Linked DNA regions of Homo sapiens: regions 2 and 3 are each linked to region 1. Evidence: fine-mapped expression QTL. A gene starts in region 1. Each other region holds a variant in brackets. All regions are shown on one strand. Distances are from middle to middle.

Region 1 (10,280 bases):
GGGGAAACCCCTTCTCTACAAGAAATACCAAAATTAACCGGTGTGGTGGCACACGCCTGTGGTCCCAGGTACTCGGGAGGCTAAGGCTGCAGTAAGCCCAGATCGCACCATTGCACTCCAGCCTGGGCGACAGAGACCTAGTCTCAAAAATAAAATAAAAACATTTTAAAAAAAGTAATAATGCTTAACAAAAATTGACCGTCATATATTAACCAGTGTGATCTCTAGGTAGCAGAGAAGCTGGGGAAAGGCCATTTACTGGGTTCATTCCGCAATTATGTGCTGGTCGCTCATCGCTGTGCCAGACTTTCTCTTTGCTAGGTAGCGGAGCACCTTACTAAAATACAGCACGGTGGGGCAAACCGGCAGATAAACTTCTTGCTGGCTCCCCGATACTCTGACAGCGATGCTTAACTGGGGGCTTATGAGTCGTCCCAGTTCTTGGTGAGAATCATTCAGCGGAGATTTGGGAGCGCTGAGGTGGAGGTTCCGGAAAGAGACGAGATGAGCTGAACCTTAGGAGTAAGAAGTGGTTTTTCCCTATAGAGAAGGGGAGTGCGTTGCAGGAAGAGCGCGCGGGCTGGAGGCAGGCGGGGCGGGCGGCCTCACCTCGGTGTCGCGGCAGGTACACCTGCAGGTCTGGCTTGCGGGGCCGCGTCGGCGCGGGCGTGTGCCGCCTCCTCACCTTCTCCTTGGCCGCCTGCTTCACCTTCTTGTCATAGTCGTCCCTGCGGGGAGCCGAGCGGGAGTCAGGGACTGTCGGGCCGGGCCAGGCCAGGCCAGGAGTGGTGGCGGCGGCGGCGCAGGGCGGGGCGGTACCGAGCGATCTGGTTCCGTCGGATATGGTGCACGAAGCCGTGGTTCATGTCCAGCCGCCCCCCAGGCTTGCAGCAGTGCCCCGGCCGGGGATGCGGCCCCGCCTCCATCAGGAGCCGGGGACGCAGAGTCGCCGCCGCCTCGACGGCCCCAACAACAGCCACCCGCCCACAGAGCTCCGCGCCGCCCCTTGCTCAGCTTCCGGCCCCGCATCCTGACTTCCGGTCTGGGAGGCCCCGGCCTGGCCAAGCGATGCAGCGCACGGAGTTTTCGGGTCTGGTCGGGTCGGGTGGAGTAGGGTATGCTTGACTTCCACCCCCCGGACGGAGGGCTTTTGTTTTTGTTTTTTTTTGTTTGTTTTTTCGTAACATATCAATAGGAAACAAGGACTTCGGCTTACAGCTGATACCAGAACCTTCAGAAAAATGCAAATCATCTATAACACAACTCGATGCTTACGGCGGTGCCTTCCCATCTTTTTTCTGGTAATAGGATGCTGTGCAATCCATCGCCATCTGCGTGACTTTGGCTGACTGTGTAACGCTGCCACTTCTCAGTTTCCTCATTAGTAAATGGGAACACCTAGAGCACCTACCTCAAATGGATTGTGAGGCCTTGAAGTGCTCAGGCAGGGCAACAGCGGCGCCCAGGCCGCAGGCGCCGCGAAGGCTCTCCTGGCCCGGCTTGCCTCCTGCTCACGGCGCCGATGGCTTAACTGTCCCCGCGGGAGGACCCAGGGTTTTTGAGGGACCTACGGGTGTATTATTTTCTTTTTTATTTATTTTTCCTTTTTTTTTTCTTTTTGAGAAGGAGTCTCACTCTGTCGCTCAGGCTGGAGTGCATTGGCGTGATTTCGGCTCACTGCAACCTCCGCCTCCCGGGTTCAAGCGATTCTCCTGCCTCAGCCTCCCGAGTAGCTGGGACTACATGCGCGTGCCACCACGCCCGGCTAAGTTTTGTATTTTTGGTAGAGATAAGGTTTCACCACGTTGGCCAGGCTGGTCTCGAACTCCTGACCTCAGGTGATCCGCCTGCCTCGGCCTCCCAAAGTGTTGGGATTGCAGGCATGAGCCACCGTGCCCGGCCCCTTTTTTTTTTTTTTCTATTTTTTCTGACCACTGGGTTCACGTCACAGCGTGTAAAATTCTCAAGTCCTTTTACAAAAGTCAAAATCAGGAATTCATGATTAGGACAGGGACAAACGGCTGGATGCAGTGGCTCATGTCTGTAATTCCAAAACTTTGGGATGCCGAAGTGGGAGTATCGCTGGAGGGAGGAATTTGAGACCAGCCTGGGCAACACAGCGAGACATCGTCTCTACAAGAAAAAAATACATTAAAAAAGAAAGAAAGAGCCGGGCGTGGTGGCTCACGCCTGTAATCCCAGCACTTTGGGAGGCCCAGGCGGGCAGATCAAGAGGTCAGGAGTTCGAGACTAGCCTGGCCAAAATGGTGAAACCCCGTCTCTACTAAAAAAAAATACAAAAAATTAGCTGGGCTTGATGGCCGGTGCTTGTAATCCCAGCTACTTGGGAGGCTGAGGCAGGAGAATCGCTTGAACCCGGGAGGCGGAGGTTGCAGTCAGCCGAGATCGAGCCACTGCAGTCCAACCTCCAAATCAAAAAACAAAAAACAAAAACAAAAAACAGGGACCAATGGTGGTCCAGCCACACGATGGAATATTACTGAGCAATCCAAAGGAAGATCTGTAGCTCAACAACATGGATGGATCATAAAATAAATATGCCCAGTGAAAGAGGCCAGGGACTCTGTATGATTCCATTTATATGAGACTCTAGGAAGTGCAAACTAATCTATAGTGACCGAGAGATCAGTTGATTTTTGTGGGGGTTCTCTGGGAGGAAGAGGATATCTTTGGGGCTGGGTAGATTCTTTAAATTTTTTTTTATTTTTTTATTTTTTTGAGGCAGGATCTCACTGTCGCATAGGTTGGATTGTAGTGGTGCAATCACTGCTCACTGCAGCCTCCACCTCTCAGGCCCAAACGATCCTCCTGCCTCAGCCTCCTGAATAGCATGCCACCATGCCCAGCTAATTTTAAAATTTTTTTGTGGAGATGGGGGGGGTCTCTCTATGTTGCCAAGGCTAGTCTTGAACTCCTGACCTCAAGTGATCCTCCTGCCTCAGGCCTCCCAAAGTGCTGGGATTATAAGTGTGAGCCACCGTACTGGGCCCAGATCCCGTCTCTTGATTGTGGTGATGGCTTCATGGGTGTATATGTTACAGGAAAGGGATCCCTATTCAGACCCCAGCAGAGGGTTCTTGGATCTTGTGCAAGAAAGAATTCAGGGTGAGTCCACAGTGCAAAGTAAAAGCAAGTTTATTAAGAAAGTAAAGTAGCCAGGTGTCGCGGCTTATGCCTGTAATCCCTGCACTTTGGAAGGGGAGGCGGGCGGATCACTTGAGGTCAGCACTTCCATACCAGCCTGGCCAACATGGTGAAACTCTGTGCCTACTAAAAATACAAAAATTAGCCGGGCATGGTGGCAGGTGCATGTAATCCCAGCTACTCAGGAGTCTGAGGCAGGATAATCACTTGAACCCAGGAGGCAGAAGTTGCAGTGAGCCGAGATCTCACCAATGCACTCCAACCTGGGTGACAGAGCAAGACTCTGTATCAAAAAAATAAAATGTAAAGTAGTGAAAGTACAGCTACTCCATTGACAGAATAGGGCGTTCCTGAAAGTAAAAGGAGGAACGCATCCACCATGGCTACAATGCTTGTTTATATATAGGATAAAAAGATCATGGGGAGATGTGCTCTGCTACAAGGGTTTGTGATAAAGGATTAATTTTATTATTATATTTTGCAAGAAGAAATATTATCTTTAAAGCAAAATTAGGAATGCCTTTATTCTCCAGATATTGGGATATTAGGACACTCCCAAGTCTGGATCTGTTTAGTAAACATTATCTCTCTGTTCCCTTAACTGTAGACATCTCTAGGCTAGGAATACCTAACTTCCTGGGAATGCAGCCTGTCAAGGCCCAGCCTCATTTTCCTAACCCTCACTCAAGATGGAGTTGGTCTGGTTGAAACGCCTCTGACATATACCGCAAGTCAGAATTCAGTAAATTGCACACAGTGTGGTGTGGTGTGGTGTGGTGTGGTGTGGTGTGGTGTGGTGTGGTGTGGTGTGGGTATGACAGAGTTTCACTCTGGTTGCCCAGGCTGGAGTGCAATGGGGCGATCTCGGCTCATTGCAACCTCCGCCTCCCGGGTTCAAGCGATTCTCCTGCCTCAGCCTCCTAAGTAGCTGGGTTAACAGGCTCGTGCCACCACGCCCGGCTAATTTTTGTATTTTTAGTAGAGATGGGGTTTCACCATATTGGCCAGGCTGGTCTCCAGTCCTGACCTCAGGTGATCCGCCCGCCTTGGCCTCCCAAAGTGCTGGTATTATAGGCATGAGCCACAGCGCCTGGCCTAAATTGCACACTTTAAACATGTAGTTTGTTGTATGTCAATTATACCTCAATGGAACGGTTCAAACAAGCAAACAAGTTCAAGGCAGGTCCTGAGGTTAGAGCTTTATTAGCTTCATGGTAAATCTGCCTTTACCGGGCATTTGCGTTTTCATGGTACCAAGAACCTTCTAAAAGTAGAATTAGGGCTGTCAAGGGGATGATTTGGGAATGTCGCCTAGTTTTCCTGTGCAGGATTGTCAGCCCCCAAGCCGCGGAGACTGTGGGAAACGACCTCACGGTGGTGGTTTCGAGGCACAAATCTGGGGCCGAATGACAGCTTCTTTGTTTTTGAGACGGAGTTTCGCTCGTTGCCCAGGCTGGAGTGCAATGGCGCGATCTCGGCTCACCGCAACCTCCGCCTCCTGGGTTCAAGCGATTCTCCTGCCTTAGCCTCCCGAGTAGCTGGGATTACAGGCATGCGCCACAATGCCGGGCTAATTTTGTATTTTTAGTAGAGACGGGGTTTCTCCATGTTGGTCAGGTTGGTCTCGAACTCCCGACCTCAGGTGATCCACCCGCCTCGGCCTCCCAAAGTGCTGGGATTACAGGCGTAAGCCACCGCGCCCGGCCTGACAGCTTTTATCCAGAAAACTGTCGCCAGTAAAGGTTCCCGTCTCAGTAAACTGTAAACGACAGTAGGCCCACAGAAGGTTCTAAGGGGAGAGGAAGCCAGTGCAGGAACAGCACCGCCCACAAATTTTCTGCAGCGTGATTTGTCCCCAGTGGCGACTCGTAGAGAGTTCGGGGCTCGCTACCAGCCCCTCTCCTGATTGGCCTTGTGCCGCGCGCTCGAGCGTGCTTGGCGCCTGCGCTGGACGACTCGGCCGGTAGTGGAGATGTCCGGCCGGTCTAAGCGGGAGTCTCGCGGTTCCACTCGCGGGAAGCGAGAGTCTGAGTCGCGGGGCAGCTCCGGTCGCGTCAAGCGGGAGCGAGATCGGGAGCGGGAGCCTGAGGCGGCGAGCTCCCGGGGCAGCCCTGTGCGCGTGAAGCGGGAGTTCGAGCCGGCGAGCGCGCGCGAGGCCCCGGCTTCTGTTGTCCCGTTTGTGCGGGTGAAGCGGGAGCGCGAGGTCGATGAGGACTCGGAGCCTGAGCGGGAGGTGCGAGGTGCGCGGGGCCGGGCCGGGCTAGGCGCGAGAGCCTGTTTTTTTCGCGTCCTTTTTTCTTGTCTCTAATCTTCCGCTAGGTCACTGCGCCGGAGTTGGGGGAGGGGTGGGGTTGGGGTGGAGAAGAGGAGGGATCCAGACTCGACGATTCTGCTGTTCGACTTGTTCTGATGAAGACAGTACCCTTCTCAATAATCGTATAGTATTTCTTTTTTCTTTTTTTTTTTTTTTTTGAGATGGAGTCTCATTCTGTCACCCAGGATGGAGTGCAGTGGCGCGATCTCGGCTCACTGCAACCTCTGCCTCCCCGGTTCAAACGATTCTCCTACCTCCGCCTCCCAGGTAGCTGGGATTACAGGCGCCCACCACCGCTCCCGCCACCACGCCCGGCTAATTTTTTGTGTTTTTAGTAGAGAAGGGGGTTTCATCGTGTTAGCCAGGATGGTCTCGATCTCCTGACTTCGTGATCCGCCCGCCTCGGCCTCCCAAAGTGCTGGGATTACAGGCGTGAACCACCGTGCCCGGCCAAACGTATGGTATTTCTAACTGCAAAAATCGTAACAACAGCAGCTTCCCTTTATCGAATGCCCGATGTGGGGGCTCAGTGCTGATTTTACAAGTGTTACTTCCTTCCATTTTAAAAAAGAATTTTTTTTTTTTTTTTTGCGTTTTAAGAGAAGCAAGTCTCGCTATGTTGCCTAGGCTGGTCTCGAACTCCTGGACTCAAGTGTTCCACTCACCTCGGCCTCCCAAAGTGCTGGGTTTACAGGCGTGAGCCACCGTGCACGGCTTTCCTTCAGTTTTTACATCTAAGGTCTTGTAATTTCTGTAATCAAGATATTCAGAATGCTTGAGCAATAGGCACCTCTACTAAAGTATGGATTATGTAGCACTTTTTAAGCTGAATAAAGTCTGGAGACAATTTTCCATTAGTCTCTTGAGTTTGTGCACGTACTGCGACCATTGCCTGACTGCCTTTTCTCCTGGACTCTCGTTAAGGATGTTCGTGTAGTGAGCAGCCTTGGAAGATAGAAATGGTGTCTCCCTACAAAACGAGGAGACAAGGGCACAATCCCTTATAAAAGATTTGGGGCAGGGTGTGGTGGCTCACACCTGTAATCGCAGCTACTCTATAGGATGAGGTAGAGTTCAAGACTAGGATAGGCAACAGAGCGAGACCTCGTTTGAAAAAATGGTTAATGGTTCAGATTCTCTAAGCACGGGGTTCGTCTCCTGTAAGGCAGCTCACTGTGTGCATGGGTTCTCCTCACTTTGCCTTGTGGGAATTCACTTGGAAAACTGACACCAATGCTATATTCCGGCTACTGTCATTGCTCTAATAAACTGTCCTTTATTTCAGGCCAGGTAGTCACATGCTTTCCATCAGCATTCATAAAACTGTGACAGGCTAACTTGTTAGCTTGCGAGTAGGGTAAGATCTGAGACCCACTCAAGTTTTTGACAAGTGGTAGATTTATAGATACACATGTACATTCTTTTTTTTTTTTTTGAGACAGTTTCACTCTTGTTGTCCAGGCTGGAGTGCAATGGCACGATCTCAGCTCACTGCAACCTCTGCCTCCCAGGTTCAAGCAATTCTCCTGTCTCAGCCTCCCAAGTAGGCTGGGATTACACGTGCATGCCACCATGCCCGGCTAATTTTTGTATTTTTTAGTAGAGATGGGGTTTTATTATATTGGTCAGGCTGGCCTTGAACTCCTGACCTCAGGTGAGCCGCCTGCCTCTGCCTCCCAGAGTGCTGGGATTACAGGCATGAGCCACTCACCCAGCCACTCTTTAAACTACGTAGTACATTTGTGGCCGGGCGCAGTGGCTCACGCCTGTAATCCCAGCACTTTGGGAGGCCAAGGAGGGTGGATCGCAAGGTCAGGAGTTCGAGACCAGCCTGGCCAACATGGTGAAACCCCGTCTCTTCTAAAAGTATGAAAATTAGCTGGGTGTGGTGGCTTGTGCCTGTAGTCCCAGCTACTCGGGAGGCTGAGGCAGGAGAATTGCTTGAATCCGGGAGGCGGAGGTTGCTGTGAGCTGAGATCGCGCCATTGCACTCCAGCCTGGGGGACAGAGCGAGACTCCGTCTCAAAAAAAAAAAAACAAAAAAAAAACGAAACACACAACTATATGGTACATTTGTATTACAATTAGTTTATTTTAGTGCTTGTGACATATTTCATATTTTTCATGCTTTATGGGATTTCTTTATGTAAAATGCAAACAAATCTTCTGTTGATTTTATGTATACCAAATATATTCTCCCAGTTTGTGGCTTGTTCTATTAGTGGGCTTTTTTCTTTTCTTTTTTTTTTGAGAGGGAGTTTTGCTCTTGTCGCCCAGGCTGGAGTGCAGCGGTACGATCTCTGCTCACTGCAACCGCCTTCTCCCAGGTTCAAGCAATTATCCTGCCTCAACTTCCTGAATAGCTGGGATTACAGGCACCCACCACCATGCCTGGCTAATTTTTGTGTTTTTTGTAGAGACGGGGTTTCACCATAGTTGGCCAGGCTGGTCTTGAACTCCTGACCTCAGGTGATCCACCCATCTCGGTTTCCCAAAGTGCTGGGATTATAGGCATGAGCTACCGCGCCCGGCTAGTGGACTTTTTTTTCGATATTGTTGCCACCCAAACAATAGGAACTCATCTTGATTAGTTTTTCCCATTTCTGTTTCTTTTTTTGTTCTGTTAGTTGGCCCTGAGTATAGGTTTCCCATTTTCAAAGCCTGTGATGATTTTCCTTTCAGCAAAGAATGGCCGAGTGGATTCTGAGGACCGGAGGAGCCGCCACTGCCCGTACCTGGACACCATTAACAGGTCAGTAGGACAGAGATGCTGAGTATAGCACAAGAACAATGGAATCTGTGCAGAAAGTTTTTGGACTGTACAGTGAACAACACATTGACAAACTTTACTTTTTTTGAACCTGTCTAGAGAGTTGTGCTTCTTGCCATGTTACTCCTTATTCTTTGATTTAAAGTGTCAGAACACATGTTGTTAAAGAGCTTATTTTGCATTTGTATGTTGGGATAACAGGATGCATAGTATCCTAAAATAACAGTAGCACATTGAAATGTTTATGGAGTATCTAGTATGTGCTGGATACTATTTTGGGTGCCTGGGATTCAGCAGAAAAAAAACACAGAAATTTGTTTGAAAGCTGAGGTAGTTTACCTCATCATAGCATTCTTTTCTCTGATTCCCAGGTGGCATGTAGAATGTTTTTCAACCTATATTGTAGGGGAATGTTTTACAATAATATAATTACTCTTGTAAGAGCTGGGTGTGGTGGCCCACGCCTTTACTCAGCCCTTTGGCAGGCCAAGGCAGGAGGATCCCTTGAGGCCAGAAATTTGAGACCAGCCTGGTCAACATAATGAGACCCATCTTTTTTTTTTTGAGATGGAGTTTCATTTTTGTCCCCCAGGCTGGAGTGCAATGGCGCGATCTTGGCTTACTGCAACCTTCGCCTTCCAGGTTCAAGTGATTATCCTGCCTCAGCTTCCTGAGTAGCTGGGATTACAGGTGCCCGCCACCACGCCCAGCTAATTTTTGTATTTTTTTTAGAAGAGACGGGGTTTCATCATGTTGGCCAGGCTGACCTCAAACTCCTGAACTCAGGAGATCCACCTGCCTTGGCCTCCCAAAGTGCTGGGATTACAGGCATGAGCCACCACGCCCAGCCAACGAGACCCATCTTTTAAAAAAACTTAAAAAAAAAGTTATGGCCGGGTGCTCTGGCTCATGCCTGTAATCCCAGCACTTTGGGAGGCTGAGGCAGGCAGATTGCTTGAGCTCAGGAGTTTGAGCATCCTGGGCAGCATGGCAAAACTTCAGCTCTACAAAAAATAAAAAAATTAGCCAGGTGTGGTGGTGCACTCCTGTAGTCCCAGCTTCTTGGGGGGCTGAAGCAGGAGGATTGCTTGAACCTAGGAGGTTGAGGCTGCAGTGAGCTGAGATTGCGCCACTGTACTCCAGCCTGGATGACAAAGTGAGACCCTATCTCAAAAAAAAAAAACCAAAAAAGTTATAAGGGCTGTTCATTATGGTAGGCATGAGCCACCTGTGGCTTCAGTGGCTCCTGCAGTTGAAGAACTGAATTTTAAATTTTATTTAATTGAATTACAGTCAGCCTCAGTATCAGGATATGGAACCTGAAGGTACAAAGGGCCAGCTGTAAGGGGCTTGAACATTGTGGATTTTGGTATTTGAAGGGGTCCTAGAACCAGTGTCCTGTGGCTACTGAGGGACAGCTGTATTTTAAATTTAATTGTCAATAGCCACTTTGTCTAGTGGCCTCTAATAAATTAGACAGCATAGCTCTTTGGGATTATTATCGGTTAATTAAGAGTTACTATTTGAGAATAAATCTCTTTGTGGATTCAGTGGAGATAAGGTTTTTGTTCCTTACTGCCAGTACTCACTTTGCACTTGAATAAATAGGTCTGTTTATAGGTATTCTGAAATTCTTCAGGCTATTTGTTTTTATGGATAAAAATACATTTTTATTTTGTAATTAATTATTATTATTATTTGTTTTTAAGAGAGGATCCCACTCTGTATCCCAGTCTGGAGTGCAGTGGTGGATCAGAGCTCATTAGTCACAAACTCCTGGGCTTAAGTGATATGTTTTTCTTTTATGCAAGGATTTATTCACCCTTTTTATGTCCTCTCCACCTCCAGAATGCTGCTGGGGTACTGTTACCTTAGTCTAACTTGTAGCTTTCTCTCTAGAGAAAGTGACTGCAATGGAAAGTCCTGAACTGGTTACAAACACTAATGAGAAAGAGGCTCGTGGGTATTATGTGTCTGGTGGAGACACCTCAACAGTGCTTTGGAGCATGGCGGGTGGAGGTGAGGAATAAT
Region 2 (9,060 bases), 43 kb after region 1:
GGTCTGGCCAGAGTTTGAACCACACATGGGGAAGAAGTGAAATTCAATTCATGTTTTCTTAGCATGACCCCACAGCCAGAAATCACGAGAAAAAGATAGATGTGGAAAAAATACTCCAGATATATGATAGAGAAAAATTTGCAATGTATAGGACAGTAAATAAATGAATATACCTAGTTTATTTTTACTCGTAAAACAATAAGAAAAAGAAACCTAAACAGAAAATTGGGCAAAAAACCCAAGTAGGCATTTCACAAAAGATGAAATATAAATGGCCAATAAACATGTGAAAAGGTGTTTATTTGGTAACTAAAGAAATGCAAATTAGAACGACCATGAGACATCATTTAAAAATATTTTGGATTAGCAGAAAAAAAAAAAAGGAACCAAACCAAACCAAAACAAAACAAAACAAATATTTTGGATAGGCCAGATGCAGTGGCTCACACCTGTAATCCCAGCACTTTGGGAGGCCAAGACTGGTGGATCATCTGAGGTCAGGAGTTTGAGGCCAGCCTGGACAACATGGTGAAACCCCGTCTCTACTAAAAATGCAAAAATTAGCCAGGCATGGTAGCACGTTCCTGTAATCTCAGCTACTCCGGAGGCTGAGGCAAGAGAATTGCTTGAACCTGGGAGGCAGAGGCTGCAGTGAGCCGAGATTGTGCCACTGCCCTCCAGCCTGTATATATAAATATATATATATATTTTTGGATTAGCAAAGTTTGAAAGATTGTTAATACCCCAGTTTGGTGAGAGTGGAAAGAGGCACTTGTTTTCTTTTGGGATAGAAGTTGGTACGGCTGGCACAGAGGCCCAGATTGATAATCCAGCCTCTGTTAAAAGTAAAGGTGTCCCCCAAATTTCATGTCTTGGAATTGATTCTAAGAAGACAGACAAACAAAGATGTAAGTGCGAGGATTTTTATTTTTTGCAAATCGTTGATAATAGTTGCTTAAAAAAGAAAGGGCCGGCCGTGCGCGGTGGCTCACGCCTGTAATCCCAGCACTTTGGGAGGCTGAGGCGGGTGGATCACGAGTTCAGGAGATCAAGACCATCTTGGCTAACACAGTGAAACCCCGTGTCTAGTAAAAATACAAAAAAAAAAAAAAAAAAAAATTAGCTGGGCGTGGTGGCGGGCTCCTGTAGTCCCAGCTACTCAGGAGGCTGAGGCAGGAGAATGGCATGAACCTGGGATGCGGAGCTTGCAGTGAGCTGAGATCACGCCACTGCAATCCAGCCTGGATGACAGAGTGAGACTCTTGTCTCAAAAAAAAAAAAAAAAAAAAGTAAGGGCCAGCCATGGTATCTGACGCCTGTAGTCCCAGCACTTAGGGAGGCAGAGGCAGGAGGATTGCTTAAACCCCAGAGTGATCGCACCACTGCACTCTAGCCTGGGAGACAGAGCTGTCATGTGGCAATTAGCAATAATAGTAGATACTTACATTTATTGACCTGAAAAGGTTATTGTTAAATGAACAGTGCAGGTTACAAAGCAGCATGTATAGGATGTTTCCATTTTGTAGATCTGCTGTATCTGTTTTTGTATATGTGCACAGAAAGCTTTGGAATTATAGATAATAACATGTTAATAATGATTATGTCGTGGATTTAAAATTTCAGTTATTCATTAGGGGGACATAATGTAATTATCTTTATTTCTCTATAACTGAACTCATTTTGGCTCATGAGCCCTCAAAACATATTATTTCCATTTCGGAGTAACTCATTCCCTTCTTAATACTCAGCCTCTCTTGGCTGACTAACCACTGAATCCTCTTTCCCCTTTCCCTGGGAATGATTTACAGATTGCCCTGCGGTGAGGAGAGGCACTGGGGACTAAGCATTCCCTGGCCATCCAGGTCTCTCTGGAGTGTCTCTCGTCTTGCCTGATCATCATCTTCTTGTGCCATCACTGCTACACATCTGATTTCTGCTCATCTCAAGATCCACTAAATCTGTCACAGATTCATCCCCAACCGTGGGCTCTTACGGGTGCACCATCTTGTCCAGAGCCAATTCTGACTGCCTCTCGGTCTGTGGGTTGAGGTTGCTCTTCTGCAACCACATCACACTGGGAACACTCTGTGAGGCAGACCTCAGGCCAGCTGCCTAGCTCCATCCCTCAGGCTAGCGTCCTCACCCTTTCTGATGTCCTGTGAGAGGCAGGCTTCTCTTAGAAGCCCACACCCTGGAAAGTGAAGAATAAGTCCCCTCCTCTTGGGCTATAATCCCTCCTGGGACTTCTCTTCCCCCAACTTCCTAAGGGCAGAGGTGCAGGATGTTGGACACTTCTCAGGGACCCTAGGAGTCTCAAGTGTAGCCACTTCCTGCCAATTCTGTCCTCCTACCAGCTAGTCAACTCTTTTTTAAAATTATTTATTTATTTGTTTTTGAAATAGGATCTCTCTGTGTCACCCAGGGTGGAGTGCAGTGGCATCATCACGGCTCACTGCAGCCTTGACCTGGATTCAGGCGATCCTCCCACCTCAGCCTCCTGAATAGCTGGGACCACAGACACACACCACCATGGCCAGCTAATGTTTGTATCTTTTTTTTTTTTCTTTTAGACAGAGTTTTGCTCTTGTTGCCCAGGCTGGAGTGCAGTGGCGCAATCCTGGCTCACTGCAGCCTCTGCCTCCTGGGTTCAAGCAATTCTCCTGTCTCAGCCTTCCAAGTAGCTGGGATAACAGGCATGCACTACCACATCCAGCTAATTTTGTATTTTTTTTAGTAGATATGTGGTTTCACCATGTTAGGCTGGTCTGGAACTCCTAACCTCAAGTGATCCACCCACCTCAGCCTCCAAAAGTGCTAGGATTACAGGTGTGAGCCACCATGCCCAGCCAAATTTTTATATTTTTTATAGAGATGGTGTTTTGCCACGTTGCCCAGTCTGGTCTTGAACTCCTGGGCTCAAGTGATTCACTCACCTCAGCCTCCCAAAGTCTGCCAATTCTTGACCTCCTTTTGAATGAAGCCGCCTTTTTCATTATCAGGCACTCATTCCCACTCATATTTTTGGGATAAACTATTAATGCCTCCAGTTCTTCAAACATTGGCTCTTCATTGTCTCAATCAAACTTTTTTGTTTTTATTTTTTTAAATTTAAAACACCCTTTTCTCTCAGAGAGTTGGATTTTGTAATGGAAACAATGGCTTTAAGGACAGTAGTTAGCTATAGATTTACAAATGTCTACTTAAAATCCAGGAGCCAATGAATTGTGTGTCTCATCCCCAGGCCCAAGAGCAGGCTGCATAGACAGCTCTTTCTGGCGCTTGAACGGTGGAGGTGTGGAGCCAGAGGCTGTGGGGAGAAGATGGAAAAAGCCCCAAGCTCAGTGTCAAAACACACACCCTGCCGTAGCTCTCTCCTGGGCTAGGTGGGATTGTGGGTGTCACATGCTTCCCTGTGAAGAGACTACCAAACAGGCTTTGTGTGAACAATAAAGCTTTTTAATCACCTGGGTGCAGGTGGGCTGAGTCCAAAAAGAGTCAGCAAAGGGTGGTGGGATTATCATTAGTTCTTGTAGGTTTGGGATAGGCGGTGGAGTTAGGAGCAATTTTTTGTGGGCAGGGGGTGGATCTTACAAAGCACATTCTCAATGGCGGAGAGAATATTACAAAATACCTTCTTAAGGGTGCGGGGGTGCGGGCGTGGGGTGGGTGGGGAGAATATTACAAAGCACCTTCTCAAGGGTGGGGAAGGTGTATTGTCACAAGGTCAATTGATCAGTTAGGGTGGGGCAGGAACAAATCACAATGGTGGAATGTCATCAGTTAAGGCAGGAACTGGCTATTTTCACTTCTTTTGTGGATCTTCAGTTGCTTCAGGCCATCTGGGTGTATACGTGCAGGGCACAGGGGATATGATGGCTTAGCTTGGGCTCAGAGGCCTGACAGTGGGTAATTTCCACTCTCTTTGTCTGTAGTTTCTGAATTTCTTACAAGAAACATGTATAAGAAATATGACAAAAGTTATTTTATAAATAAAGGGACACTTCCAGGCATTTCAGTCTTTAAGAAAAGCTAAGGCTTGTTTGGCTTTTTGTTTATTTTTAGGTTTTTGGTGTCCTCATGACCTAACCTCATCCCAGTGAGTAGAGACTGGGAGGGGAGAGCAGCAGCTGGAGGGCAGGCTGGGAGCGCTTGTGAGGGAGAGGAGCTATGGACGTCTGCTTCTCTGCCAAGGGAGAGAGTGAGGTAGGCCTGGGCCCGCTGACTTCAGGGTGAGGCCACAGCTACTGCAGCGCTTTTTATTTATTTATTTATTTACTGAGATGGAGTCTTGCTCTGTCACCCAGGCTGGAGTGCAGTGGTGCAATCTCGGCTCACTGCAACCTCTGCCTCCTGGGCTGCAGTGATTCTCCTGCGTTCAAGTAATTCTCCTGCCTCGGCCTTCTGAGTAGTTGGGATTACAGGCATATGCCACCACACTTGGCTAATTTTTTGTATTTTTAGTAGAAATGGGGTTTCACCATGTTGGCGAGGCTGGTCTCGAACTCCTGACCTCAAGGATCCTCCTGCCTCGGCCTCCTAAGGTGCTGGGATTGCAGGTGTGAGCCACCACGTCTGGCCATACTGCAGCACTTTAAAGGACGGTGTCTTTTTCTTTCTCATAAAAGAGAATAGGACTTTATTAGCATTGGTGCAGACATTGTATTACACAGGAATGGGTCCCTAGCTTGCACAACCCCAGCTGAGCTTTCAGCAGATAAATCACAGCAGAAATAGAATCACCCTAGGACTTTCAATCAAAAGCTGGAAGTCCACCTTACAGAAAGACAAAAAGAAACCCCTTTTTATATCTTAACAAAGCAATAGCTCTCAAGCAGCAGAGCATCTCGAGGAAGAAAGCTTGCCCGGTCGCCATCCCATCATGCCAGAGCGTGCAGTGTCCACCCTTGACTACGCTGGGGAATTGCTGATTTTTTGAAAAAGCTTAACTTAACAATTTCTGATGTCTATCTTTTAGAGTTCTGTATGTTCCCATTTTTTATTCTTCTGAATTTTGAATTGCAAGTAGCTGTAAAATCCAATCTTTGAGTGCATGGGGGTGGGTGTGAGGCGGGGCTCAGCTTCAACCCCCTGTCCTGTAAAGCAGTGGCTGGTTTTTCCTGAGCCCAGCCCTGGGAGGTCGTGGTAGGTGTGGAGGCTGCAGAGCTCCTCCAGATGCTGCCCTCGCTGTGCCTCACACCAGAGAGGATGGAAGTGGGCTCTGGTGTCAGACTGTGGTTGAGCTGAGACAGACAAGGCCGACACAGGGCTGGGGGCCCGTGGTCCACCAGTGGAAGTGACTGCCGAGGAAGGGCGGTGAGGAGGGCGGTGTGGGAGCTGAGGCTTCTTTTCAGCCTGGCAGCTGGCGAGGGCCAGGGAGCAGGGGAAGAGCCTGGTCACCATGGTCCCAGAGCCCGTCTCACTTGGCTTTTCCTTTGCAGCTGAGGAGGATGAGGGCCAGAGAGGGACTGTGTGTATGTCCTGCCTGGGGACCCACAGCCAGGTGATAGCAGAGGTGGTTTGAAGCCCAGGCCTCCCACGCCAACCCACTGGTCTTGCTGTTTCAGCAGGGAAGGCCGGGAGCCCTAGGAGCTGGGGAAAGGCGACTGCCCGGGTCCTGGGTGACTCCCCACCCCCAGATCCCCAGCTGTCATCACTGGGGCAAGGACACATTAAACTGGTCCCTGTGGGTCAGGTCTGAGTGGGGGAGGACCTCCCCTCCCCACTGCCTCCCACAGGGGCTTGTGATGCAGGGTTTCAGGAACAGGGCTGGCTTCCCCGCCTCAGATGGAAGAAGTGGACTTGGCTGTGAGCTCCAGGAGGGCAGGGCTCAGCCATAGCCCCTACCCTAGGATGTGGCCTGGCCACAGGCACCCACTACTTTTTTTTTTTTTTTTTTGAGACGGAGTCTCACTCTGTCACCCAGGCTGGAGTGCAGAGGCGCAATCTTGGCTCGCTGCAATCTCCGCCTCCCAGGTTCAAGCAATTCTCCTCCTCAGCCTCCCAAGTAGCTGGGATTACAGGTGTGTGCCACCACATCTGGCTAATTTTTTTTTTTTTTTTTTTTTTTTTTAGTAGATACGGGGTTTCATCATGTTGGTAAGGCTGGTCTTGAACTCCTGACCTCAAGTGATCCACTCGCCTCGGTCTCCCAAAGTGCTGGGATTACAGGTGTGAGCCACTGCGCCCAGCAAAGAAATAC[C/CT]TTTTTTTTTTTTTTTTTTTTCCTGAGACAGAGTTGTGCTCTGTTGCCTAGGCTAGAGTGCAGTGGCACGATCTCGGCACACCGCAACCTTCGCCTCCCAGGTTCAAGTGATTCTCCTGCCTAAGCGTCCTGAGTAGCTGGGATTACAGGCACCTGCCACCATGCTCAGCTAATTTTTAAAAAATATTTTTAGTAGAGACAGGGTTTCGCCATGTTGGCCAGGCTAGTCTCGAACTCCTGACCTCAGGTGATCTGCCTGCCTCGGCCTCCCAAAGTGCTGGGATTACCGGCGTGAGCCACCATGCCTGGCCTTACATTTTTTAAAATGAGGGAACAAATGAATAAATGACCACCATGTTAGGGGCTGGCTCTGAACAGAATTGTAAAGTGGGCCAAGCTTGCTCTCAAGGTCACCTTAAGCCCACGGTTGCTGTGTCCTGCCCTCTCAGGGTCATTTCCCAGCCTCCAGGCACCTGTTCACAGAGGCTGCATCTGGCCTCGCCTCCACCCCTCCATCCTAAGGTGCTCCGCTGACTTAGAACAGGACAGTCAGGGAGAGAATGTGTCTCAGGAGGGTGGAGTCAGATGATCACGGCCTTCCTGGCATCTGAGGGGATACAGCTTCGGGTAGCAAAGTGTGATTTTCCCTGAGCCCCAGGAAAGCTTGGCCTTGGTCAGAATACATTGAACCCTGAGGGCCAGAGAGTCCCTGGGGCAAGCTCTGAGAGGGAGGCCTGGGACAGGGCAGGGCGGGGGGTTGGGGGGGAAGCTGGGGGTTGGGCACTCAGTGACTGGGGTTCTGGGCGGGGCAGTGCTCGGGGTCCGGAAAGGGTGTTTTCCTGATGGCCAGCCAGAAGCCCTCAGGAGCCTCCAGCTGTGCGGTGAGAGGGAGGATGGAGCAGCCGGCAGGAGTGGCCGCCTCTTCCTGCTTGGGGAGCAGAAGGGCCTCCCATGCCCTGATGGTCAGGACCTGCCCCCTTACCTCCCCGCAACTGGGGGCCTGGACTCACCTGGACAGCTGAGTTCTCATCAAAGGTCGGGGCTGTGGATACACTGGAGAGGGCTGGACATGGTCCCACACACCCCGAGGGCCTGTCACAGGGACAGCACCAGGGCTGAGGCCTGGGCCCCCTCAGCTCCCCACACCCAGCTCTTCCGGGAAAGAACAGCACTCACTCCACCTCCCGCCTAGTGGGTGCTACCAGTGTGACTCTGTAGACCCCTCGGGCCACTCCCTGAGCCACAGGCCTTAGGGTTTAGAGCCTGAGGAGGTGAGATGTTCACTCCAGAACACCCACTTTGTACCCCCACCCCACCAGCACACACTGGCCAGGGAACACAGCCCCATCCTATAATGGACATCCAGCCGCACTCCTCAGGCCATCCCTCCCTTCCCATCCCCCTTTTCCATGCTCTCATGATTTTTTACACTGAAACAGAGAGGGGTGCCTCCCAGTCCCTGGCCCGTGCACCTGGGACCACCTTGGACCCAGGGGAGTGAGGCCTCTGAGGATCACGGGCCCAAAGGGTGGGGGCTCTGGGAGCCAAGGGAAGTCCTAGGACCAACTGGGAGGGGTGGGTGTACCTGGCAGGTGGTGTGGGCATCCCAGCCCCTGGGCACCAGGGTCAGCAGCTGGGGCGTGTGCTGCTCCACAAATTGCTTGCACTGAGGAAGGAGACACACAGCTGTGGAGGGTCCCTTTGCAGGACTCTCCTGTCGTGTGGTCCTGGCCTCTCCACATCTCTGGATCACTCTAGGGCTCCCTCCCGACTCCTCCATCAGCCCTCACGGAACACCTCTGGCTGCAGTTGAAACCCTTAACAAACTGGAGCCAGCTGAAATGGAGGACTTCCATCAGAAAAGCAGGCGACACTGGAGACGGAGGACTCAGGCAGAGGGGTGGAATCTCAGCCACCACCCTCCCCTCCCTCCACCTCCATTTCAGTTCTAGAAGGAAACTTAACGTTCATCTGGTCCTTGAGACCAGATGTGATGGGCAGTCGGGAGGCTTGGGAGTTGCTGAGCAGGGAGCACAGTGTGGACAGCTGCCTCCTGGGAAGAGCATCAGCTGGCTTTCCTCAGGACAGGATCTCGCTTTAAGAAGGGAATTTCCTGTCCGGGTGCAGTGGCTTATGCCTGTAATCCCAGCACTTTGGGAGGCCAAGGCGGGCAGATCACTTCAGGTCAGGGGTTCGAGACCAGCCTGACCAATATGGTGAAACCTTGTCTCTACTAAAAATACAAAAATTAGCCGGGCCTGGTAGCACATGCCTGTAATCCCAGCTACTCAAGAGGCTGAGGCAGGAGAATCGCCTGAACCCGGAGGCAGAGGTTGCAGTGAGCCAAGATTGTGCCATTGCACTCCAGCCTGGGCAACAAGAGCAAAACTCCATCTCAAAAAAAAAAAAAAAAAAAAAAAAAAGGGAATTTCCTGTCATTGACTGAGTATTGGCAAGGGCCCTAGGACCTTCAAGTCCAGCCCTCTCCTTTTGCCAATGGGTTTGTCCTGAGTGAGTCACACCTTGAGGAGTGTGGGGGCAGTAAAGGGATCAGGACCCTGGAGAGAAGGCTAGTCCCTTTCCTGGCTTGAACTGGCCCTAGCATTACTCATCTCCTGGTAGATAACCAGGCCTCTGAAGGCTTGCCTGGTGCTCACTCAGCCCGTGAAGAGGGCCTGCTGGTCCTCTGGAGCCCACAGCCCTTTGTCCAGAGGCGACTCCTAACCTTTAGCAGGCTCTGCCCTAACTTACAGTCCCACCATTGTCTGCCCCACATCCTGTCTGCCTGTCTGTGCTCCATTCTGGCCCATCCTAGGTGTCTCTGGCTGCAAAGCCTTTCCTGGGCTCAGCCTTCTGCCTTG
Region 3 (8,827 bases), 31 kb after region 1:
TTTGCTCTTTTAGGCTGGGCGCAGTGGCTCACATCTGTAATGTCATCACTTTGGGAGGCCGAGGTGGGAGAATTGCTTGAGCTCAGGAGTTTGAGACCTGCCTGGACAACATAGCAAGACCTTGTCTCTACTAAAAAAAAAAAAAAAATGAATAGTTTGCTCCTTTTCCTATTTACTAACACAAAATGATTAAACGTAGTATTTCTCTTTTGCCGCATGGACAGTTTTGGTTCAGTCATGAAATCTTGAGTATAAAGACTTCTCCAAACCAGGCACGGTGGCTCACACCTGTAATCCCAGCCCTTTGGGAGGCCAAGGCGGGCGGATCACGAGGTCAGGAGATCGAGACCATCCTGGCTAACACGGTGAAACCCCGTCTCTACTAAAAATTCAAAAAATTAGCCAGGCATGGTGGTGGGCGCCTGTAGTCCCAGCTACTCGGGAGGCTGAGACAGGAGAATGGCGTGAACCCAGGAAGCAGAGCTTGCAGTGAATTGAGATAGCTAGCGCCATTGCACTCCAGTCTGGGCGACAGAGCGAGACTCTGTCTCAAAAAAAAAAAAGACTTCTTCACTGATACTCATTCAGACAAGTCTAGTCAGCTTTTGTTCAGGCTGAAGAGAAAATAAAATGAGAAGTCAGCCTTTAGTAGCAGGAAGGCAGGTTGGCTGACTAGAGCTCACATGGACTCAGGACTCATATCTCCTTTTTTTTTTTTTTTTGGAGATGGAGTCTCGCTCTGTTGCCCAGGCTGGAGTGCGGTGGCGTTATCTCGGCTCACTGCAACCTTCGCCTCCTGGGTTCAAGCAATTCTCCTGCCTCAGCCTCCGGAATAGGTGGGACTACAGGTGCACGCCGCCACGCCCAGCTAATTTTTTTTTTTGTACTTTAGTAAAGGCAGGGTTTCACGATGTTACCCAGGCTGGTTTCGAACTCCTGAGCTCAGGCAGTCTGCCCGCCTCGGCCTCCCAAAGTGTTGGGATTACAGGCATGAGCCACCGCACCTGGCTTCCATTTTCTTAACAGTGAATATTTATTGCAGTCTGACTGCATCATATATGGGACACTGTCAGTCTGTAGAAACAAATAGCTGTCACCAATACATAGAAAGCTACATATAATAATTACAACAAAGTTGTATGTTTGTTTATTACCACATGGTTTACATTTTAAACTCTGTAATTTTGAACAGTTAATATGTTCACAGTCTAACTTCAAAGGGAGATATATAACTGGACGTGACCACCATTAGCTGTTTCTTGTGAACTCTTCCAGTGATAACATGGTTTTGTTTCATGTAATGAGTGGTAGCACATCAGACAACTTTTATGATGCAATGTCTTTTTTTTTATTTTACCTTGTATTGTGTAAGTTTTTATAAATATTTGTAGACTCCAAAATGATATATTTTTCCTAAAATTATGTATTTAATCTTAATATTCTTGTTAACTGTCTATATATTTTCCTTTTTAACTATTTGAAAGTTCTTCTTCCTTTTGGGGGTTTTTTGAGACAGGGTCTCACTGTCGCCCAGGCTGGAGTGCAATAGTGTGGTCCTGGCTCACTTTAGCCGTAATCTCCTGGGCTCAAGTGATCCTCTCACCTCAGCCTCCTGAGTAGCTAGGACCACATGCATGTACCACCATGCCTGGCTAATTTTTTTTTTGTAGGGGTCTCACTACATTGCCCAGGCTGGCCTTGAACTCCTGGGCTCAAGCAGTCCTCCTACCTTGACCTCTCAAAGTGTTGGGATTATAGGTATGAGCCACTGCCTGTCATTCTTTTTTTTTTTTTTAAATCATATGGGAAGCTGTGTAACCCTGTCATTCATTTTGGCATATTTTGTGAATTCCAACGCACCTGGACCTTCTTGACTCTGCAAGCCTACCCAGAGAAAGGGTCCTAAAATAGGGCTGAACAATTTTGTGGTCCGTTTGTGTAGGACAGTTTCCTTAACCTCACAGCCTTTGTCTGATTATTCCGGCTTTATTTTAACCATTAACAGAAATGTGGATCTGAGAGAATACTTGTCTGAAGAAGTACAAGCAGTACACAAGAATACCACCTATGACCTCATTGCCAACATCGTGCATGACGGCAAGCCCTCCGAGGGCTCCTACCGGATCCACGTGCTTCATCATGTGAGTGGCTGCTGACCGTCTCATGGCACAGAGTGGCAAAAACAGGTGTTTCTTTGGCATCTCAGAGGGCAGCTCCCTTCAGTGTGTCCTTGCTTGGCCTTGGCTTTGGGACTCTGCAAGTAATAGTGCTGTCAGTAGTTAGTTTAAGGCAGTGGTTCTCAATTTTGGCTACACATTGGACTCACCTTGGGAGCTTTTTTTTTTTTTTTTTGAGACAGGGTCTCGCTCTGTAGCCCAGGCTGGAGTGCAGTGGCGTGATCTTGGCTCACTGCAACCTCCGCCTCCTGGGTTCAAGCAGTTCTCTGCCTCAGCCTCCCGAATAGCTGGGATTATGGGATTACAGGCGCCCATCACCACGCCCGGCTAATTTTTGTATTTTTAGTAGAGACGGGGTTTTACGATCTTGGCCAGGCCAGTCTTGAACTCCTGACCTTGTGATCCACCCACCTCGGCCTCCCAAAGTGTTGGGATTACAGGCGTGAGCCACCGCGCCAACCGGGAGCTTTTTAAAATCCCAATGCCTGGCACCACACCAGGCCGGTTATAATAGTAGTTTTCAGCTGGGGCAGAGGCCAGGGATGTTGGTATATATTTTACAACACGAAGGACAGCCCGTGTTACAAAGAATTATCTGACCCTAAACATCAGTCAGCATTAAGGTTAAAGGCTCTCTGTTAGATTGTCTGGAGGTGGATGTCTTTTCTGTTTGATGTCTTTTCTATTTTTCAAGTTAATTGAGATGGGGTTGTGCTATGATGCTCATGCTGGTCTCAAGCAATCCTCCCGCCTCAGCTTCTGAAACTGCTGGGATTACAGGTATGAGCCACCATGCCTGGCTGGCATTTGATGTTTTGAAGTTCCCTGAGAGACCCTGATATGCAGCCAAGGTTGAGAACCTCTGCCCTAGACTAGAGCCTTACCATCCAAAGTGGGATGCATCCTTGGACCAATAACATCAGCATCAGTCTTGTTAGAAATCAGCTTGTTAGAAATGCAGACTCTCAGTCCCCTCAAACCTACCACATCAGAACCTGGATTTTAACGTGACCCTCTGATTTGTAAGAAATTAAAGTTTGCGAAGCACTGGTTTAGAGGCTCCCTTTCATCTTAAAAATGTTGTGGATTTGTCTCAAGTTGAAAACAGATAAAACATGTACTTGAGATATATTTGATATCACATAGATTATTAGCATAAATTGTTCTCATTTGATTAGCCTCTTCTGGAACTGTGGGTTTAATCTTAACTAGCTTCTGTTTATCAAGTGCTTTATTGTGGTTAGGCAGTACGCCAGTTACTTAATGTACATTAATCTCATTTCTTTCATTAAAACACACCTCCAAGACAGATGTCAGTATCATCTTTTTTACAGAGGAGGAGACCTAGGCTCAGAGTTTCAGTAATTGACCTCAAGTCAGTAGAATTAGGATTTGACCCAGGTACTCTGCTTCAAAGCCCATGTTCTTAACTCGTCCTTGAAGCAGGAATGGGAACTTACTTATGTGATCCTGAGCTTTCCTTATGTTTCCTATATTCTCAACTATTGTAATATCCAGAGGATCTGGAATATTTATATTCTACAATAATGGTCTTTGGTATTTCTTAGAACTTTGGTTGGATAAGACAGGTGGGCGGCCAGAGGTGCCTCTGCCTTAATCTAGAAACATTTTTTCCTTGTTCATGGAAGCATGAAGTGAGATACGTTTTGCTGTATTTGTAGCACTGGTTTCTTAGGCCAAAGGAATCAGGTTAGTGTGATAGACAGTGTCCACCAAGGACACCTTTTCTTGATGACCTGTTG[CT/C]TTTTTTTTTTTTTTTTTTTTTAAGACAGAGTCTCACCCTATCACCCAGGATGGAATGCAGTGGCATGATCTTGGCTCACTGCAACCTCCACCTCCTGGGTTCAAGTGATTCTCCTGCCTCAGCCTCCCAAGTAGCTGGGACCTACAGGCACCTGCCACCAGGCCTGGCTAATTTTTGTATTTTTGGTAGAGACGGGGTTTTACTGTGTTGGCCAGGCTGGTCTCAAACTCCTTACCTCAAGTGATCTGCCCACCTCGGCCTCCCAAAATGCTGGGATTACAGGCGTAAGCCCCTGTGCCCAGCCAGGAATGTCCATATTTAGGTTCTCTCAGTGGTTGACACTGTGTACCTCATAAGTGAGAATGTCTAGTCTGTCATTTCTGAGCAGGAAGGAGACATCATAGGTGATGATTAGATGGCTTCCTCTTTTCTCATCTTTAGTGTCCACTAAATTCCTTTTAAAAAGATGTACAGAAGTGTTTCAGACTCCATTGTACTTCAAGGGGCCAGGCGCAGTGGCTCATACCCATAATCCTAGCACTTTAGGAGGCTGAGGCGGGAGGATCTTTTGAGACCAGGAGTTAGCCTGGGCAACACAGTGGGACCCCATTGCTATTAAAAAAAAAATTAGCCAGTTTTAGTGGCACACACCTGTAGTTCCAGCTACCTGGGAGGCTGAGGGGAGGATCGCTTGAATCCAGAGGGTCAAGGCTGCAGTGAGCTGTGATTACACCACTGTAGTCCAGCCTGGGTGACAGAGTGAGACCCTGTCTCAAAAAAAAAAAAAAACAAAAAAACAACAAACAAAAAACAGTGCTTTAAAAAAATTCCCAACAGGAATTGAGTTTGCCATGATTGACACACCAAAAGTCCTATTAATTGAATCATGGCCAGAAGAAGTCATGTACCCTCTTCTTTATGACTGTTGCTGGATGATGTCTAGTGGCTGTTCTTCTAATTTTTCTAGTCTTGGCTATGATCCTTTCCTTCTACACCCTTTTGGTTTTAGAGAGCAGACTAACCCAGCTCTTCATACTTTCTGCAGGGGACAGGCAAATGGTATGAATTACAAGACCTCCAGGTGACTGACATCCTTCCCCAGATGATCACACTGTCAGAGGCTTACATTCAGGTGGGTTGGCCACAGGCTTAGTGAGCCACAAATAGGTGGCGTATGGGGCCAGTGAGAGGAGTGGGCCAAGGCAGGAAGAGGGATAGAGTTAGGACCTTGGTTGGAGGGCCAGGTACCTATTGGGAAGTACTTAGTAGTGAGTTGGGGGCAGAATGTATGGCCCTGAAAGTCAAGCAGAGATTTTCAGAAAAGAAGTATAAGGAAGTGTAGAAAATGTATGAGTGAGCAAAGAAAGTTGCGATTATGGCCAGGTTAGTTTTGCAGAAGTGTGCGGTCTGGTTTCGAGGAGGAAGAACCTAGACTCATCAGGGAGGCTGGCTAGAAGTCGACCACGAAGTGCTCCCCAGAGCCCCAGGCAGCTTTGTGACCCCACAGCGCTTTCTACTTGACGTTTGTTTTAGTGCCGGCCATATCGCTTTGCCTGTCTGTCCTCTCCATTGGATTGACCCATGGAGCACAGAGCATCTCTGTCTTCTCTTTATGTAACTGCCCTAGTACCTGGCAAAAGAAGGAAGATTGAGACAAAAGCCATAGCTTTGTAAGAAGAAAGTGATACCTCTCCTTCTAGAGATAACTTTTTTCTCCTCAGTGGCTGTAGCCACTGTAGCAGATTTCCAAATGGGGTATAGCAGATTTGTAAATGGGGTGACAAGTTGTCCATGGCCTGGCACAGAATAGGTATTTGATAAGTGTCTGTTGACTGAATGCCTCCTAGACTTCAGTTTGTGTTTTCATTTCTTACAGATTTGGAAGAGGCGAGATAATGATGAAACCAACCAGCAGGGGGCTTGAAGGAGGCGTCTAGGGCTTTGCTCCCAAGGGCTGTGGCTGATGATGGTAAATAAGAACACAGAAGCTGTAGCTGAACACAGGCTGGCTGGTGGGCTTCCTAGGCCAGCCCAGCTTGTATGGGTTCTGGCTACACCAGAGCACCAAGAGCCCACTTGCCTGGGATGGCCCCACACTGTCACTCAGCTGTTCTTTGATCATTTTTTTCTAGATTGATGCTCCTTTCTCCCATGCATTGAGCTCCCATCTAGCTTCAGCAGGGCAGAACCCTTCTCCAGATGTGTGTAACTTATGTCTTGAGTATCTGGGAGTAGTTGAAGAACAGATAATTCCTTCCAAACATCAAGCCTTGGGATTCTTGGAGCAAGCAGAAAGCCAGTAACTTCGCTCTGTTAGAGGTGGAGGATTTTCCTATGGTTCCCCCCATTTCCTGATTTGTATTTTTAGATGGATTAAATAGTCTCCTGTTTTTAAACCAGCCTCTTGTTTTATATCTTTTCCTTTGGTGGTTGGCTGAGGAAAATATTTTCCTTTTTAATCTTCACAAACTCTCTACCCTACAGTCTGACATCTGGTGCACATCACGCTCGCCCTTTCCTGTCAGCTTGTGGGTGGTGTGTCAGTTAGGATGCATTTGTTTCTAAGTAAAAAAATACCTGAGTCAAGGGGATACATTATTATTGTGCTTAACTAGAGGGCCAGAGGTGGGCAGTTTCCAGCTGCAGTGCAGGAATGAGTAAGGGAAGAGGAAAAAAAGGAAATAGGAAGCGCTTCTCACTACAGTGCAATTCTGAGGTGGTCTCAGCCAGTCCAGTGTGGAGCCCCAGGGCAAAGATTCCGTCAGACAATTCAGCAGAAATGGCTCCCATCAAGCTCAGTCGTGGGCTCTAGCAGCCTAGAAGAAGGGTGGCCTTGGCATGAGCACTGTGGCAGGTCCAAAGATATGGGAAGCAGCTGGAGGCAGCCAGTCAGCCCCAGCAAGTTCTGTTGAATGGAGACAGGAGCCCCGCACTCCTGTGGTGCCACCCTTTACCTGGTCACAACCTTGTCCTCACTTTCCTCTACCTCTCTGGAAGCTCCAGTATTTCCTTAGGAGGCTTATCTCTTCTATCCAGCCATTAAATTTGGGTTTTCTCAAGATTCAGTCCTAGCGTCACTCTTCTTGCTGTTTACTTTTTCCCTAGGCCATTTCAGCTATGCATTTTTATGGAAATGACTCATAAACACATCTTAATCCCAGATTTTTCTAAACTCTTGAACTTCGCTCTGTTGCCCAGGCTGGAATGCAGTGGCACAATCTTGGCTCACTGCAACCTCCACCTCCCAGGGTCAAGTGATTTCCGGCTAATTTTTTTATTTTATTTTATTTTATTTATTTTATTTTATTTTTTAATTTTAATTTTTATTTTAGAGATGGAGTCTTGCTCTGTCGCCCAGGCTAGAGTGCAGTGGCATGATCTCAGCTCACTGCAACCTCTGCCTCCTGGGTTCAAGTGATTCTCCTGCCTCAGCCTCCTGAATAGCTGGGATTATAGGCGACCACCACCGTGCCCAGCTAATTTTTGTATTTTTAGTAGAGACGGGGTTTCATCATGTTGGCCAGGCTGGTCTCGAACTCCTGACCTCAAGTGATCCACCCGCCTCGGCCTCCCAAAGTGTTGGGATTACAGGCGTGAGCCATGGTGCCCAGCCCTATTTTTGGGTGTTTTAAAGTAAACTCAAACTTAACATTGTTTAGAACTGAGCTTGCCAGGTGTGGTGGCTCCTGCCTGTAATCCTAACACTTCGGGAGGCTGAGGTGGAAGAATTGTTTGTGGCCAGGAGTTCAAGACCAGCCTGGCCAACATAGCAAGACCCTATTAGCCGGGCATGGTGGTGTGTGCCTGTAGTTCCACCTATCTGGGAGGCTGAGGCAGGAAGGTCCTTTGAGCGCAGGATTTGAGGCTGCAGTGAACCATGATTGCACCACTGCACTCCAGCCTGGGCAACAGAGCAAGACCTTGTCATTACAAAAAAGAAAAAAAATTGAGCTTGTGAGTTTCCCTTTTTTTTTTTTTGAGATGGAGTCTCACTCTTGTCCAGGCTGGAGTGCAGTGGTGTGATCTCAGCTCACTGCCGACCTCTGCCTCTCAGGCTCGAGTGATTCTCCTGCCACAGCCTTCCGAGTAGGTGGGACTACAGGTGTGCGCCCCACACCCGGCTAATTTTTGTATTTTTAGTAGAGATGGGGTTTCACCATGTTGGTCAGGCTGGTCTTGAACTCCTGACCTCAGGTGATCTGCTGACCTTGGCCTCCCAAAGTGTTGGGATTACAGGCATGAGCCACTGTGCCCTGCCATGAGTTTCTCTTTCAAACTTGGCTATTTTTGAGGTGAAGATTACACTATCCAGTTAGAGAAATTCATGTATAATAATCTGTTCAGGGAAAGTTTAATTTCAATAATTATTAACTACAACGGGTTTGTAGAAACGGGATTAGTTAGTAACAAGTAAAGTAAAGAATGTAGGAATAACAGATACAAAGAGCTGCCACTAGTTCTGGGGCTGACAGTGTCCAAAGCTGAGATCCAGACCTTGCTAAAAATATGCCCTCTGAACCTCGTTAAAAATCTGCTTTGTAGTGTACTCAGGAAAGCCATTCACAGGTGTCTCCCTGGAGGCCTCTGCTATAAAACTGTCCAGGGAGGAGAGTGCCAGGTGGAGCTACTGGGTGCCTGTGCTGCTCAAATGTATATGTGGTCTCCAAAAGCCAAGAAAAACCTATCAAACATTGTGCGTGCGTGCGTGCGTGTGTGTGTGTGTGGTGGTATGAGGTACAGCCACCTGTCTTGGAGAGGATATTTTGACATAACTCTATACTGTTGACTTCCGAGAAATGTCTCTGAGGTGGCAGGCCCCTGAATTGTTTGTTTGTTTGTTTGTTTTGTTTTTTTCTGAGAACGGAGTCTCGCTCTGTCGCCCAGG

Evidence for each region. PIP is the estimated chance that this variant, and not a neighbour inherited with it, causes the effect.
Region 2: its variant is the best candidate, but not a certain one, in a credible set for the expression of USP39 in monocytes (CEDAR, PIP 0.50).
Region 3: its variant is the best candidate, but not a certain one, in a credible set for the expression of USP39 in neutrophils (CEDAR, PIP 0.56).

The regions. Positions count from the first base shown.
Region 1 is chr2:85,611,059-85,621,338 of GRCh38, forward strand. It overlaps USP39 (ubiquitin specific peptidase 39), which reads left to right and starts at 5,128. Exons shown (of 13, transcript NM_006590.4): 1 at 5,128-5,405; 2 at 8,162-8,231. The coding sequence starts at 5,138. C2orf68 (chromosome 2 open reading frame 68) reads right to left here and starts at 1,008. Exons shown (of 4, transcript NM_001013649.4): 1 at 820-1,008; 2 at 610-728. The coding sequence starts at 926. RefSeq lists silencers at 779-1,160, 780-849, 1,336-1,508 and enhancers at 1,120-1,349, 4,792-4,841, 4,872-4,921.
Region 2 is chr2:85,654,245-85,663,304 of GRCh38, forward strand. It overlaps SFTPB (surfactant protein B), which reads right to left. Exons shown (of 11, transcript NM_000542.5): 9 at 7,785-7,865; 10 at 7,210-7,291; 11 at 3,070-5,438. The coding sequence ends at 7,229. Among named protein-coding and RNA genes, the nearest start is that of SFTPB, 9.4 kb to the right of the region's middle. The variant C/CT (reference allele first, on the strand shown) is at 6,200.
Region 3 is chr2:85,642,943-85,651,769 of GRCh38, forward strand. USP39 (ubiquitin specific peptidase 39) reads left to right here. Exons shown (of 13, transcript NM_006590.4): 11 at 2,006-2,141; 12 at 4,988-5,074; 13 at 5,819-6,341. The coding sequence ends at 5,866. Among named protein-coding and RNA genes, the nearest start is that of SFTPB, 21 kb to the right of the region's middle. The variant CT/C (reference allele first, on the strand shown) is at 3,941.